Regions from separate parts of the Homo sapiens genome. Here regions 2, 3 and 4 are each reported to be linked to region 1. The links are microRNA targets in miRTarBase. Many come from high-throughput screens and were not tested one by one. Region 1 holds a microRNA gene; each other region holds the end of a gene's coding sequence.
What was found. Region 1 holds the annotated microRNA hsa-miR-6787-3p (UCUCAGCUGCUGCCCUCUCCAG, at 2,574-2,595, opposite strand). A microRNA usually pairs through its seed, bases 2 to 8, with sites in the 3' UTR of a target mRNA and lowers its output. Matches are read on the target gene's strand: a 7mer-m8 pairs with bases 2 to 8, a 7mer-A1 pairs with bases 2 to 7 and ends in A, and an 8mer does both.

Region 1 (4,058 bases):
ATTAAAGTCACGTTGTCTCGAAGCATGGGTTTCCAGGTCCTTGAGCATAGCAGTGGCCGCAGGCCACCTGGGAGCAGCAGGCGGGGCCCCTGGTGAGGATGCCTTGTAACCTTGCGGCTTGGCTTCACCGCAGATCCACTCTGGAATGACACGGTTCCCACCCCGCCACCTTCCCCCTCAAAACACTGATCGGGCGACGATCCGCTGGGCCGGCAGCTGGAGCCCAGCCGTGGCCCTGCCTGAGCCAGTCCAGTTTGTAAAATAAATAGCAAGCGTTGCCGGCTTCTGTACCTCCTCCCTGTGCCTGCCGGCCCCGCCCAGCCACTCAGACACTTGTTTCCGGGGTGTGAACCACCTCCCCGTTTTTCTCAGGCTCAGCCTTCAGGAAATGCTCCACCTCCCGCAAGTCCACCCCCGAGTCTGCAGGAGGCTTGTGGAGCTTCTCCTCCTCCGCGGCCGCCACCTCAGGCTGTGGCTCTTTGGGCTTCTTCCTAATGCAGAAGAAGTTGCCCAGCAGCAAAATCAGGGAGGAGGTGAGCACCTCGGCCCCCGCCAGGATGAACACGTACATGTAGACGTGGGTCGCATCCAGGAGTTTGCCTGCGGGAAGACCCCGTCAGTCCCAGCCGCTCATGCGGGCTGCCCCCAGGGCCCACGGCTCCACCCAAGCCTGTGTCTCGGTGTCTCAGCACGCAAGGGTCACCCTGTCTGCCTCTGAGCTTGTGGGGCTGGGAGGTGTTCTCTCCCCTCCATGTGTTTCAGCTGGGGGCATCCTCCCTCCTCCTCAGGGGAACCAAGACTTAAGAGGCTAAAAATAGCAATGGCTTTGTGGAGTTTGGGTTTCGGTTGGTGGCAGGAGTCACGCTGGTCCCCACGGAGTCCCCCTGAGGCTTCCAGTCGGCAGCCCCAGAAGCCCTACTGTGTTCAGTACCAGCCCTGTGCCCTGGCCACCGCGGACTCCAAGACATGAGCCCTCCCCAAGCCCAGGACCCCCTCGCCAGGCAGGCGGAGCCTGGGCAAGGCTGCTCCAGTCAGAACTTAATTTCCCTCACGTGTTAGCTCAGTCATCCTTCAAAAAGGAGAGGCCCCAAAATGCAAAAGCCGGCTGTTGGGTTGCCTGGAGCTGCCGCGTGGTGCCCAGGCAGAGCCTGGAGGAGCTGCCCCCCCCCGGGCCCAGCCCCTAGCCACCCTGCCTGTCTGGACACACTGTGCCGGACGGAGCACCCCACTCCTAATGGAGACCCGCTAGCCCCAGCAGAATCAGGGTTGGTCCAGCACAGTGCACCCCCTCCAGCTCTGAGTCCCACACTGCGGGTGGCTGCCGAGGGGTGCGCGTCCCCCCCCTCGCAAAGCGGGCGTCTGACGGGAAGGGCAGGTGTGGGGAACTGCCTGGGGGCGCAGCGCTCACCTCCCGAAGGGGGCCCGACGAGCACGGCCACCGCCTCCATCAGCAGCACCAGGCCAATGGCACTGGAGAACTTGTGGGTGCCCACGATGGCCATGAGCACCTCGAACTGCAGGGCCCCCACCATGCCGTAGGAGATGCCAAAGAAGATGCAGAAGACCACGAGGCCGCCGTAGTCGCCCGCCGTAGAACCCGCCAGGTCCGCGAGGCCGTTGAAGAACATGGAGAAGCTGAAGAGGTAGACGGAGTAGGGCCGCACCTTCCCAAGCCCCGCCACGAAGCCCGCGGCCGGCCGCGCGAAGATGTCAATGAAGCCCAGGATGGTGAGCAGGAAGGCGGCCTTGGTGTCGGGCACGCCCAGGTCCTTGGCGTAGCTCACCACGAACACGGGCGGGACGAAGAGCCCCAGCACCATGACCGAGGCGGCCACGGCGTAAAGCACAAAGCCGCGGTCCCGGAAGACGCTCAGGTCTAGCAGGCGCCGGGAGGGTCGCGGCGGCCCCGAGCCCGGCTGGGCCGTGACCACCAGGGGCCTCATGAGTGCGGCACACACGCAGCAGTTGAGCAGCAGGCCGCCCAGGATGAGGAAGCCGCCCCGCCAGCCGTAGCGGTCCTGCAGCAGCTGCCCCAGCGGGCTCAGGGCACACAGGAAGACAGGGCTACCTGCTGCCGCCAGCCCGTTGGCCATGGGGCGCCGCTTGCTGAAGTAGCGGTTCAGCATGATGAGCGAGGGCTGGAAGTTGAGTGCCAAACCCAACCCTGGAGGAAAGGGAATGTGGTGAGAGCCCCCCAAGGCTGCCCCAAAGCCCGAGACCCTCATCTCTGCCCCCAGGTTCCCACAGGCTCAGGCTCCCAGGGTGCAGAGCCCCTGCCACCCACCCACTCGAGAGGGGGACAACGAGGTGGGGCCGGGACACCCCGCAGCCACCCGCCCTGCTGTCCTCCAGAGGCCTGGACCCAGGAGCAGAAGTGCACGGCCCCTGCCCCTCCTGGCACGTGCGGCCCACCGGCCGGCCCCACTCACCCGTGATGACCCCAGTGGTGAGGTAGACCTGGATGATGCTCCGGCAAAAGGACGCAGCCACCATGCCCAGCGACGCAAAGAGACCCCCCACAAGCATGACGGGCCGGCAGCCAAAGCGGTTCACGCACACACTGCAGAGCGGACCTGGAGAGGGCAGCAGCTGAGAGGGGCCGGGCCTGCAGCCAGCTCTACCCCCGCCAGCCGACTGAGCTCACAGCCTGGAGCCGGCCTCCCCTTCCCACACCACCCCTCCCCCCGCGGGGCACCAGGGGCACCCCGTGGGCAGGCTCCCCGAGCGCAGGCCATGATGACACGTGAGCGCCGCCTGCTGGGCCCCTTGGGTCCCTGCAGCTCAGGAACAGCCACCTTTTCAGGAACGGCTCTCAGGAGCCTGTCCTCTGAGACGGTCTATAAATACAGCCGACCCGTTTGGACAGGGGCCAGGATGGACTTCGCGCCCTGCCTGGGTTGGCCCCGTGGAGAGCATGTTGCTGCCCAGCAGGATCCTGGCCCCAAGGGCTTCCCTCCAGGGTTCCCTGGGGAGCAGGCGGAAGGCCCTGTTGCTGAGCCCAGCTACACGCGCCCAGCAGGATCCGCCAGCAGAGCCCCGGACAGGGGGCCCGGTGTGAGGCCACCCTCACCTGTCCCGTAGAGCATGGCCAGCAGGATGGAGGAGATCCAGGCTGTGTCGCTGTAGCCGATCCCAAACTCCTGTATGAGCTCCTTGAAGAAGACACTGACGGCCTTGGGGAAGGCGTAGGAGAAGCCAGTGATGACGAAACAGCCGAAGAGCACGGCCCAGCCCCAGCCGCCGTCAGGGGCCTTGACGCCTGTGGGGCCCTCGTCCACCACGGCCCCTCCCATGGCCAGGAGGGTTGGTTCCGCCTCACCTGAGAGAGAAAGCAGGCTGACTCAGGCTGCCCGGGTGACCATCCCAGCTGCAGCCTGGCAGGGGAGGGACACGAGCTGGGTGGCCCGGCAGCTCAGCTGAGGGGCAGCTGCCCGGCACCCACACTTGTGGCCCCCTGACCTGGTGTCTGGTGGAGGCAGGAGGGTTTGGAGGGAGGCTAGCAGCTGTGGGTCCCACTCCCTCTGCACTGCCTCCTGCACCCTCACAGCTGGCTCTAAAGGGCAGTGGCTTTTTTGGGCTCGGCCAGGACTCAGATTACCTCCTGGGACAAGCAGCCCCCGACAGGAACATCGACCTGGCCGTCATTTCTGCCCTGGCTCGCTCTGGCTGACCCGTGCTGGGCAGGGACCACGCACACCATGATTCTGGCAGCAGACGGCACCTCCGGTCCCCAGCACTGAGCTCGCCCCAGGACCTCTGGGGTTGGCATCCTCCAGGTCTCTCCCGGTCTAAATCTAGGTGGAGCGTGCCTTGCTCTGGCTCTCCTGCCCCCAAGGGCCCACTTTGGCTTCAGTGGAGCCCACCAGGAGCTTGCCCAAGAGGAGGCGGGCAGTCTCTGGCGGTGAGGGGCTGGGCCCCAGGCTGGAGGGGGCAGTTGGAAGCACAGGGGCTGCAGTATTAGAGTGGGTGGGGTGGGGAAGTGGGGGCAGAGCTGGCCCCTTGTCCCTGGATGCCCCCTTGCCTCCCACCGGCCCTCTTGCTCAGTGACTCCTCCAGTG
Region 2 (3,958 bases), not on the chromosome of region 1:
CCCCGTGCCATTTGCTTAACTCCTCTGGGAACTTGCAGGACTGGAGTTCCCCAGCAGCACCTCTCAGTTAACATTTTCTCACGCTTCTCTCCTGCACAGATGGGGAAAGCCAGCACACAGGACAGTAAACCTCCTGGGACTTCAAGCTATGAAATTGTGATCTAGGCTGCTGGGCTGAATTCTCCCTCTGGAAACTGAGTTACAACCACCAATACTGGCAGGTTCCCTGGATCCAGATCTTCTCTGCCCAACTCTTACTGGGAGATTGCAAACTGCCACATCTCAGCCTGTAAGCAAAGCAGGAAACCTTCTGCTGGGCATAGCTTGTGCCTAAATGGACAAATGGATGCATACCCTTCCTGAAATGACTCCCTTCTGAATGAATGACAAAGCAGGTTACCTAGTATAGTTTTCCCAAACTTCTTCCCATCATAGCACATGTAGAAAATAATATTTTTATGGCACACTGGGATAAACAAGCAAGATTGCTCACTTCTGGAAGCTGCATATGACTAGAGGCCTCTTGTGACTGGAGGTAACAACCCTGCCCAGTAACTGTGGGAGAAGGGGATCAATATTTTGCACACCTGTAATAGGCCATGGCACACCAGCCAAGATGCTCTGCTCACAGTCAGTATGTGTGAAGATCCCTGGTGCGTGGCCTTCACCACGCATCTTGAGCAAATTAGGAAAATGTACCCTTCGCTTGAGGCAGATGCAGCCCTTCCCCCGAGTGCATGGCTTGGAGAGCAGAATGTGGGCTGCATATAAGCACACTCATCCCTTTGTCTGGGAATCTTTGTGCAGGGCATAACAGGCTTAGTAAGTCCAAACACAGATGACAGTGCTGTGTGGGTCTCTGTCAGAGTTGTGGCTCTCAGCCATGTAGACACACTCTCCAAATGGAGTGTTGGAAAATGTTCTTTCTGCAGGGTCTAGAGACTGCTGGGACACTTTTCTTGGAGTGCTACTTCAGAAGCCTTATAGGATTTTCTTTCTGGCCAAGATTTCCTTCTGTATCACTCCAAGCAGCCTCAGCAGAAGAAGCAGCCATGCCCAGTATTCCCACTCTCCAAAAGGAACTGACCAGCTTATATTTCTCACACTTCTGGGGAACTGGGTATAATCCAACCATCAAAATAGAAGACCTTGCAAGAAGCAGAGTCATTCTCCAGAAGGAACTTGGGAGATGATGGTGCAGATGATGAAACTGGGTTCATCCCAGTTCCAAAGACTCAGAGAACTAGAGTTTAAGCTGAGGCAGAGTGCCGCCACCCTGGCATGCCCCACAAACAGATCACCAGCCAGCTTACACAGGCATTAACTCTCCTCAATGAGGAAGAATCATTCACAACTGAGCAAGACATTCATATGATCATTTAAGGAAGTGTTTCCCTTATGTGTTAGCAAGTATAATCGGCTAACTCCTAAATCCCAATGAATAGTCCTAGGCTGGACAGCAATGGGCTGCAATTAGGCAGATAAAGACATCAGTCCCAGTAAATGAATCCATAGACTCATCTAGCACCAACTACCATTAGCACTATGTTAGGAGCTGCAAGGCCCCAAAGTAGAAGATGTGCATAATGTCTGCTCTTGTGTAGCTCAGGAGACAATTCCAGCACAGACACTACAGTTAACGCTGAACTGCAGCTGCAAGTAATAGCATGAACAGTCAGAAAAATACCTTATGAGGGGGCAGGGCTGAAGCTGGGCCTTGAAGGATGGATGAAATTTGGATAGAGAATGAGGAAGACAGAGGGCCTCCAAGTGAGAGAAGCATGAAAAATGAGCAGGGGCCTGGATCAGTGGGGTGTATTCAGAGCACCTCTCCAGATGCACCATGCATGCTCACAGTCCCTTGCCTATGTGTGGCAGAGTGTCCCAGCCAGATGTGTGCCCTCACCCCATGTCCATTTACATGTCCTTCAATGCCCACCTCAAAAGGTACCTCTTCTGTAAAGCTTTCCCTGGTATCAGGAATCAAAATTAATCAGGGATCTTTTCACACTGCTGTTTTTTCCTCTTTGGTCCTTCTATCACTAAAACTCATCTCATTCAGCCTTACAGCATAACTAATTATTTGTTTTCCTCACTACATTGTACATGTGGGAATTACAGATAAACGGAAGCCGGCTGGGGTGGTGGCTCACGCCTGTAATCCCAACACTTTGGGAGGCCAAGGCAGGCGGATCACCTGAGGTCAGGAGTTCGAGATTAGTCTGGCCAACATGGTGAAACCCCATCTCTACTAAAAATACGAAATTAGCCAGGTGTGGTGGCACACATCTGTAGTCCCAGCTACTCTGGAGGCTGAGACAGGAGAATCGCTTGAACCCAGGAAGTGGAGGTTGCAGTGAGCTGAGATCACACCACTGCACTCCAGCCTGGGAGAGACAGAGTGAGACTCCATCTCGAAAAAAAAAAAAAGATAGAAGCCAATAAGCATGGTGCAATCAAATTCTGGCAAGCATTAAATATCAGGATGCAGCTGGGCACGGTGGCTCACGCCTGTAATCCCAGCACTTTGGGAGGCCAAGGTGGGCGGATCACTTGAGGTCAGGAATTTGAGAGGATCCTGGCCAGCATGGCAAAACCCCATCTGTACTTAAAATACAAAAAAATTAGCTGGGCGTGGTGGTGCACACCTGTAATCCCAGCTACTTGGGAGGCTGAGGTGGGAGAATTGCTTGAACCTGGGAGGTGGAGGTTGCAGTGAGCTGAGATCCTGCCACTGCACTCCAGGCTGGGCAACAGAGTGAGACCATGTCTCAAAAAATAAAAATAAAATAAAATAATATCAGGATGCATACATCAGAGGCTGTTCCTAGTGTAAAGGCACTTTGGAGGGAGAAGACTTTCAGAGTTAGGCAGACCAACTAAGAGGTCAGCTGAAGCACCTAACCAGTTGTAAGGAGGTGAAAGACAGCACCCCAAGAAGAGACGTGCAGGAAGGAGGAAAGAGGCTTGGTCATAAAGGATGGAGGAATTCCAAAGTGACACTGAACAGGCTGCGTTTATCCTAAAATAAAACCACTCCTCACTCTGTGGATGCGTTGAAGACTCATTCCCAAACATCTTTATTCTCTAACTTGCCCTCTTCCTCTTCCTAATATGCTCACTCAAGTAAAATTACTAGTGTCCTAATGCCCCTATGCATATTGTCAAAAATAAAAATCAGAAGCAGGTTAGATCTGTTAGGTCTTCCAGAAGAGCAAACCTGGGATGAAGCCAGAGCCCAGGAATTCTGAAGGTAGCCTTTGGACTCAGGACACCCTACTCTTGTCTCTCCTCTCAGTTTCTCTGCTATGAATCTCCTGATTCATGAACACGTTATCTGTTCACCCTTCTCTCTAGGTCTTAGTTCTTAGATTTTCCTTCTGTAAAATGCATGTGATCTTATTTTCCCCTCCACAACTTTCCAGATGAACTAGACTGTGACCAAGAGGTCTATAAAATCAAAGCATCATGGAACAGGATCTTGTATCAGACCAAAGTGTGCCAGTTTTTAAAAATGTGCATCAAAATGGAAGTCTCAGAGACAGAGCCCTCTGGTGGAAAGTTCTAGTAGGTTAGGACAGTCCTGCCTGCAGACACCTTGGGCTTTACTGAGGGACTCAACTGAGAAAATGAGGAATGTTGCAGCTCATGATTCTTAGAAGAAGAAAGTGAAGCTTGTTTAAAATATGATTTAAAAAATCTGTAGAACACTGTAAACTACACAGGCTATGAGGGAATAGCCTGGTTGGGCCAGCTTGGAAATCGGGCACAGGCAGGAAGGGGCCTGTCTGGTTTGGGCCGTGTCCACAGAGAGCACTTCTTAGGTCCTGCCTGGAGAGAAGGAATGGCTGGGCTATATTTTCTTCCAGACTCATTATTTTTCTTCTGTTTGACTTTTCTCTGAATTTCCCTTGATTTGTATAAATTTTCTCAATAATTAGTGACAGTGTCTACTGAT
Region 3 (4,058 bases), not on the chromosome of region 1:
AAAACACGCTAAGGGCCTGGAGTAGGCTGAGGCTTAAAAACATTTAAATGCTCACGTGACCACTTCCTAGCCTCTTGGACAAATGGCTTTCCAATTCTGTGCCTCACCTTTTTCACCTGAACAACTGGAGCTGGGCCAGGCGCAGTGGCTCACGCCTGTAATTCCAGGACTTTGGGAGGCTGAGGCGGGCAGGTCACCTGAGGACGGGAGTTCAAGACCAGCCTGGCCAACACGGCGAAACCCTGTCTCTACTAAAATACAAAAAAAATTAGCCGGGCGTGGTGATGTGTGCTGGTAGTCCCAGCCACTCAGAAGGCTGGAGCATAAGAATCGCTTGAACTCATGCCACTGCACTCCAGCCTGGGCGACAAAACGGACTCCGTCTCAAAAAAACTGGAGCTGGTAATAGTACCCATGATGCAGGATTGCTCAGATTAAATAATATATGTAACACTCTTAGCTCCACGCCTGGCAAGCACTAACAACCATTATTAGTCTCATTAAGGCTTCCACATTTTTAGGAGAAAGATGAAGTAAAACACATGTTCCTTTTGGAGGAAGATAAATGGAAGTGACATTTAACTTGGCTCTTGGGAACATCTTTGGAGAGAAAAAGGCATTCCAGGTGGGATGAACCGTGAGCGAAGGCTGAAGCGCAGCACGTATGGAGCCCTCTGAGGATTCGGGATTGCCAAGTATGTCTTTGGCAACAACGGATTAGACTGAAAAGCCAAGTGAGATTCAGAGTTTAGGTCTCCCAGAGCTTGCTTTCTCCCTGGCCAGGAGCTCAAAGTGAACTTCCTCGCCTGGGGTGAAGTCATCCTCTCAGACGTTGGTCCAGACCTAGCTTCAAACTCTGCCTTGCCCAGAGACCTGTGTGCTCTTTCACCTGGCACTCCTGACCCTGAGGTGAGACAATAGCCTCTAAGTGAGGACACGTGGCAGGCACGAGTATAGATGTGTTGCTGAATGTAGGGGTCCTTGGCAGTGGTTCCCTGGTCTTTTGAATGACACATTTCTTTCAGCCTCTGGTCAGAGGCTCCACGGGGTCTCTCCATGAAAATGCAGGGGTGTTAAGTTTTGCATGTCTTTTTGGACAGTGCATCATATCCCTGACACCTGCAGCTCCGAGGCTGAGCAGCGGATAGGTGCTGGGTCCCTTTTACTATGAGCCAAAACCACCTAGGTAGGAATGGATGATCCAGATGCTATCACCCTCTCCCCACTCCGGGGTCTCTGCCTAGCAACAGCAGCAGTATGCTGGGAGGATGCTGGGATCACCCCACAGAAATACTTGTCTCTGAGCCAAGACATCCTGCCAGCACGAACCTAAATTGTCTTCAGACCCTCAAACCCTGGGGTCTAGTCCCACACCAAGCAGCCCTGGGTCATGTTATAAAGCCATTTACAGGATCTGAGGAACAAGGGGTAAGGTCATCCGCTTCCTTGCCAACATAAAAGAACACATGTTAAATCCATCAGCCACACCACTCCTTCTTCCCCTGTCACGTTTCTCCCACTCCTGACCACTTCAAAGGACATAGGATCCCCACAAAATGGTGACAACAAATGGAGCCATTTTCATATCCTATTTTATTTTTGAAGTCAGTGTCCAGAAAGAAACCGACGATTCACTCAATCAACATGTAAGCGACTGAGGCATCCCTACACACCAGGTTTGCAGGCTAGGGACCAGAGACACGATGGTTAAACAAGCCAGAGCCCTGTGATCCTAGGGCTTACAATGCTGGCATAAGAAAATCCTTCTGGACTCACTGTCCCCATGCTTGTGACTGTCATGTGCCAAGTGCGCTTTACACAATCTCATTTTTCCCTCAACTTGGGGATAGGTTTTGTATCATTCCCATTACAGATACGGATGCTGAGGTTACTGAGTGGAAGAGGAAACCTGAATTCTGCTGCTGGACCCCAAAACTCATGTTAATTACCCACAGCCTCCCAAACATCAGAGGCCCCAAACATGCCTCCCAACTCACTTCTCACAAATGGGGGCCGTTATCTGCCCCATCTCTAGGGCCGTTCTGTAACATTCTCAGCGACTTCCCATATCTTACAGAGGCAGGCCCTCCTTTCAGGAAGCTGATCCATGCCCCTTAATAAGGTAGCTTCTCTCCCCACTTGGCACACCACCTAGCTAGCCAAGGGCAAAGCAGAGACTAGGGGACAGGCCCCAGCACCGGGTCAGCACCCACTACCTCCTCAGTGATCAACAGTGCCCATTGCACTTCAATGGGCACCTGCAAGTGGCACCAGATTCTCTTGGAACAATTCTTAAGGCAGGGCGTGGTGGTCACACCTGTAATCCCAGCACTTTGGGAGACCAAGGCAGGCAGATCACTTGAGATCAGGAGTTCGAGACCAGCCTGGCCAACATGGTGAAACCCCACCTCTACTAAAAATACAAAAATCAGCCAGACATGGTGGCACACACCTGTAATCCCAGCTACTCAGGAGGCTGAGGCACGAGAACTACTTGAATCTGGGAAGCGGAGGTGCAGTGAGCCAAGATCATGCCACTGCACTCCAGCCTGTGTGACAGAGCGACTTTGTCTTAAAAAAAAAAAAAAAAAAAAAAAAATTCCTAGCAAGTATTTATTACAGCAGTCAGTGACAAAAGCCAGATCTAAAATCCTATCTACAGAATAATCCTAGCCAGGCAAAACAAATTCATCAAAAACTAATAGAAAATACTGAAATATAGGCCAGGTGTAATGGCTCGTGGCTGTAATCCCAGCACTTCGGGAGGCCGAGGTAGGCTGATCACTTGAGGCCCAGAACTCAAGACCAGCCTGGGCAACATGGCGAAACCCTGTCTCTACTAAAATATAAAAATTAGCCGGATGTGGCGACACACACTTGTAATCCCAGTTACTCAGGCGGCTGAGACAGGACAATCACTTGAACCCGGGAGGTGGAGGTTGCAGTGGGCCAAGATCGCGCCACTGCACTCCAGCCTGAGCAATAGAGTCAGACTCTGTCTCCAAAAAAGAAAAAAAAAAAAAAAAACTGAAATACAACTAAAATATTTAGTGTCAAATACCTGGTTTTGGCAGACAGCAGGGGTGACTGTTTCTTAGGCATACTGGTTTCATAAGAACTTTTTCCCTTGGCTGTATTAGTCACTTCAGGGAATCGCATTCACCGATAAACGAAGCAACTGCATGCTGCCGCAGAAGCTGTGGCTACACTGCTGTAAAGGCTCAAAACGACCAAGTGGAAGCACCAGAGTCCATGAGGCATTTTATTTGTAAATATATGTATTACATCCCTAGAAAAAGAATCCCAGGATTTTCCCTCCTGTGTGTTTTCGTCTTGCTTCTTCATGGTCCATGATGCCAGCTGAGGTTGTCAGTACAATGAAACTATGGAGTGGAAAAAGAAAGTGCTGGTAAGTTTAATAGTTCAACATAGTGCCTTCTAGTGCAGAAAAACATCAACACTCATCAGTGGTTAAGGGCGCTTTCCTGTGGGGCACATAGGAACTGACAGTGCCTACATGAGCTGGTGCCTCATGTAGCGTATGAGCCATGACTCCTGCAACCCAAAGAGCCAAATCCAGAGAGCCCAGCCACACAATCACACAGCCCTGACTTCTGCCTACACCATGAAACAAACTGCACTGAAAACAAAGGCTGGGAACTCCTTTAAATTTAAATGTCACTTTCTGCTCTCAGGTAAGGAGACTTGAAAGTATTCGTATAAACTTGAGTTTGAATTGTGTTTCTGCCATGTACTGTATAATAGCTAAACTATTATATGGAGACGTTCATTTGTACAATGAGTGGCTGCTTCATGAGTTACTGTGGGGATCACTGTAACAAGCATATAGTATGCAAATGTGCGGCATTAAAATCAGTATCATAATTACAAAGAGAAATGATTTTGGTGAGAATACCGTACCTGTAATACAGCAACCATGAAGTGAGAATACTTTCAACCAAGGCACCAGACGCATAATTTGGAGGGTATAAATTCTTAACCACAAAGATACACATTTACTGTGTCAGCTCATAAAGTGCTTTACCAAAATTAAATCA
Region 4 (3,000 bases), not on the chromosome of region 1:
GCCAGGTTGGGGCAGCCTCTGCGGCCTTAATTCACAGCTAAGCTATTTAGCTTCCAGCTGGGAGAGGGGTGGGAGAGGCCAGGCAGGCTGAAGGGCTTCCTGGGGGCTCTCCACCAATGCTATGGGATGCTCTGCCCACAGCCTGTTTGAGAGTGGCATCAATTGGGGCCGTGTGGTGGCTCTTCTGGGCTTCGGCTACCGTCTGGCCCTACACGTCTACCAGCATGGCCTGACTGGCTTCCTAGGCCAGGTGACCCGCTTCGTGGTCGACTTCATGCTGCATCACTGCATTGCCCGGTGGATTGCACAGAGGGGTGGCTGGGTGAGTATCCAAGGACTGCAATGTCCTCCCTGCTGTTGGGGCTGCCCCTCTCCCAGGCCCCACCCCTTCCTCGGGTTCCTATATCTTCTGCTAGCCTCTCTGTGACCACCTTGTTTCTCCCGGCAGGTGGCAGCCCTGAACTTGGGCAATGGTCCCATCCTGAACGTGCTGGTGGTTCTGGGTGTGGTTCTGTTGGGCCAGTTTGTGGTACGAAGATTCTTCAAATCATGACTCCCAAGGGTGCCCTTTGGGGTCCCGGTTCAGACCCCTGCCTGGACTTAAGCGAAGTCTTTGCCTTCTCTGTTCCCTTGCAGGGGTCCCCCCTCAAGAGTACAGAAGCTTTAGCAAGTGTGCACTCCAGCTTCGGAGGGCCCCTGCGTGGGGGCCAGTCAGGCTGCAGAGGCACCTCAACATTGCATGGTGCTAGTGGGCCCTCTCTCTGGGCCCAGGGGCTGTGGCCGTCTCCTCCCTCAGCTCTCTGGGACCTCCTTAGCCCTGTCTGCTAGGCGCTGGGGAGACTGATAACTTGGGGAGGCAAGAGACTGGGAGCCACTTCTCCCCAGAAAGTGTTTAACGGTTTTAGCTTTTTATAATACCCTTGTGAGAGCCCATTCCCACCATTCTACCTGAGGCCAGGACGTCTGGGGTGTGGGGATTGGTGGGTCTATGTTCCCCAGGATTCAGCTATTCTGGAAGATCAGCACCCTAAGAGATGGGACTAGGACCTGAGCCTGGTCCTGGCCGTCCCTAAGCATGTGTCCCAGGAGCAGGACCTACTAGGAGAGGGGGGCCAAGGTCCTGCTCAACTCTACCCCTGCTCCCATTCCTCCCTCCGGCCATACTGCCTTTGCAGTTGGACTCTCAGGGATTCTGGGCTTGGGGTGTGGGGTGGGGTGGAGTCGCAGACCAGAGCTGTCTGAACTCACGTGTCAGAAGCCTCCAAGCCTGCCTCCCAAGGTCCTCTCAGTTCTCTCCCTTCCTCTCTCCTTATAGACACTTGCTCCCAACCCATTCACTACAGGTGAAGGCTCTCACCCCCATCCCTGGGGGCCTTGGGTGAGTGGCCTGCTAAGGCTCCTCCTTGCCCAGACTACAGGGCTTAGGACTTGGTTTGTTATATCAGGGAAAAGGAGTAGGGAGTTCATCTGGAGGGTTCTAAGTGGGAGAAGGACTATCAACACCACTAGGAATCCCAGAGGTGGGATCCTCCCTCATGGCTCTGGCACAGTGTAATCCAGGGGTGTAGATGGGGGAACTGTGAATACTTGAACTCTGTTCCCCCACCCTCCATGCTCCTCACCTGTCTAGGTCTCCTCAGGGTGGGGGGTGACAGTGCCTTCTCTATTGGGCACAGCCTAGGGTCTTGGGGGTCAGGGGGGAGAAGTTCTTGATTCAGCCAAATGCAGGGAGGGGAGGCAGATGGAGCCCATAGGCCACCCCCTATCCTCTGAGTGTTTGGAAATAAACTGTGCAATCCCCTCACCCTGACTTAGTTTTTGTATTCTCTGCTACCCCTCTTTCCATCAGGCCAGACTGTGGGAACCTGGGCACGCCTGGCATACATCTGGCTTATTACTGAATAAAACCTCACACTAGGCCTCTAGAATCCCATAGAGGCCTGAGTATGGTTCTGCAGCCCCCACTCCGATGGAAGGCGTTCGCCCCTCCCCATGAACTTCTCTCATCTCGTTGGGTTTCATGCAGTTTCCACCCTTTAGGAAGTCTGGGAGGTCCTTTAGCTACAGAGCTGGTGGAGCAGCTGCACATATCTGAGGACCCCCACAGGCTACCTCTGACCTGGGCTGAATTCTTCTCCCACCCTGGGGCTACCACCCACGCTGGTCCAAAAGGCCCTTCTCCCCCACATTTAGCTCTGCCTGGGACACAATGTCCCAGCTCCCCCTTCCTGATGTCTCCACAGTCAGCACACACGCAGGGCTTTCATTCTAGTTTTATGCTGCTTGGGAGTCCCTATGGGTACCCAGCCAGGGGTGATAAAAATAACAAGCATGGGGGCGTTTAAATGTTCCAAAATCTACAGTCTTTCCAGTCCTGGGCACCCTGGTCTGTGTTTCTGACGCCCTTCCAAAAGGGTCACATGCAAGTCCAAGAGAACTCGTGAGTTTCACCTTCACCCTCCTGGGGTGGGCTTGCCAAGCCCCTTTTCCCTCCACAAGGTCTTCAGAGTCTAGTACAGACGCGATCTTGGAAAAGGGAAAAGGCGGCGCTGCAGGCAGTGGTGGCTGGAAGGTGGTTGCTACAAGGCACCCCGCAGTGTACAGGAAAAGCTCACAGACAACATTTATAGAACACATACTGTGTGCCAGGCTTTATGCTGAGAGTTCATCATCTGCCCAAATAATAGGTAGGAGACGGGGGTGGGGGTACTCAAACTACTATTTACAGATAAGGAAACGGGTGCTTTCTCAGAGTCACCCAAGGAGTGAGGACTTGCCACCAGGAAACTGGCTCGAGTTTTACGTGGAGGCCGGAGAGCAATGTGGGGCTCGCGAGCACAGGTTTAAGAGGCCCAGAGTGCGGGGTCGCCTCCCTCCCGGAGCGATGCCATAGAGGTTAGAAGTGGGCGGCTGCCCGAGTCCAAGATGGCCGCCGCCGCGAGCACGCAAGCGTGCCCTTCCTTGGGCGGGGCCTTTGGGGCGCACCCACTCCAGCCTCTG

Region 2: the mRNA of CD84 is a reported target of hsa-miR-6787-3p. Seed matches in the 3' UTR shown: 7mer-m8 at 1,254-1,260, 7mer-A1 at 2,313-2,319, 8mer at 2,360-2,367 and 8mer at 2,719-2,726.
Region 3: miRTarBase lists RPS15A as a target of hsa-miR-6787-3p. Seed matches in the 3' UTR shown: 7mer-A1 at 2,052-2,058.
Region 4: miRTarBase lists BAK1 as a target of hsa-miR-6787-3p. The part of its 3' UTR that is shown has no 7-base or 8-base seed match.

What each region holds. Positions count from the first base shown.
Region 1 is chr17:82,235,244-82,239,301 of GRCh38, reverse strand. MIR6787 (microRNA 6787) reads right to left here and starts at 2,634; the gene lies at 2,574-2,634. SLC16A3 (solute carrier family 16 member 3) reads right to left here. Exons shown (of 5, transcript NM_004207.4): 2 at 3,071-3,319; 3 at 2,430-2,573; 4 at 1,409-2,164; 5 at 1-600. The coding sequence starts at 3,293. The coding sequence ends at 326. It also overlaps a transcript of CSNK1D not described here. RefSeq lists enhancers at 1-501, 1,272-2,043, 2,868-3,057.
Region 2 is chr1:160,544,463-160,548,420 of GRCh38, reverse strand. CD84 (CD84 molecule) reads left to right here. Exons shown (of 7, transcript NM_003874.4): 7 at 100-3,958. The coding sequence ends at 165. All of the region lies in intron 1 of CD84-AS1 (CD84 antisense RNA 1), which reads right to left. Among named protein-coding and RNA genes, the nearest start is that of CD84-AS1, 9.3 kb to the right of the region's middle. RefSeq lists an enhancer at 1-150.
Region 3 is chr16:18,779,720-18,783,777 of GRCh38, forward strand. It overlaps RPS15A (ribosomal protein S15a), which reads right to left. Exons shown (of 5, transcript NM_001019.5): 5 at 1,576-3,383. The coding sequence ends at 3,290. Among named protein-coding and RNA genes, the nearest start is that of RPS15A, 8.6 kb to the right of the region's middle.
Region 4 is chr6:33,571,356-33,574,355 of GRCh38, reverse strand. It overlaps BAK1 (BCL2 antagonist/killer 1), which reads left to right. Exons shown (of 6, transcript NM_001188.4): 5 at 142-322; 6 at 449-1,804. The coding sequence ends at 553. Among named protein-coding and RNA genes, the nearest start is that of BAK1, 7.4 kb to the left of the region's middle. RefSeq lists an enhancer at 2,650-2,939.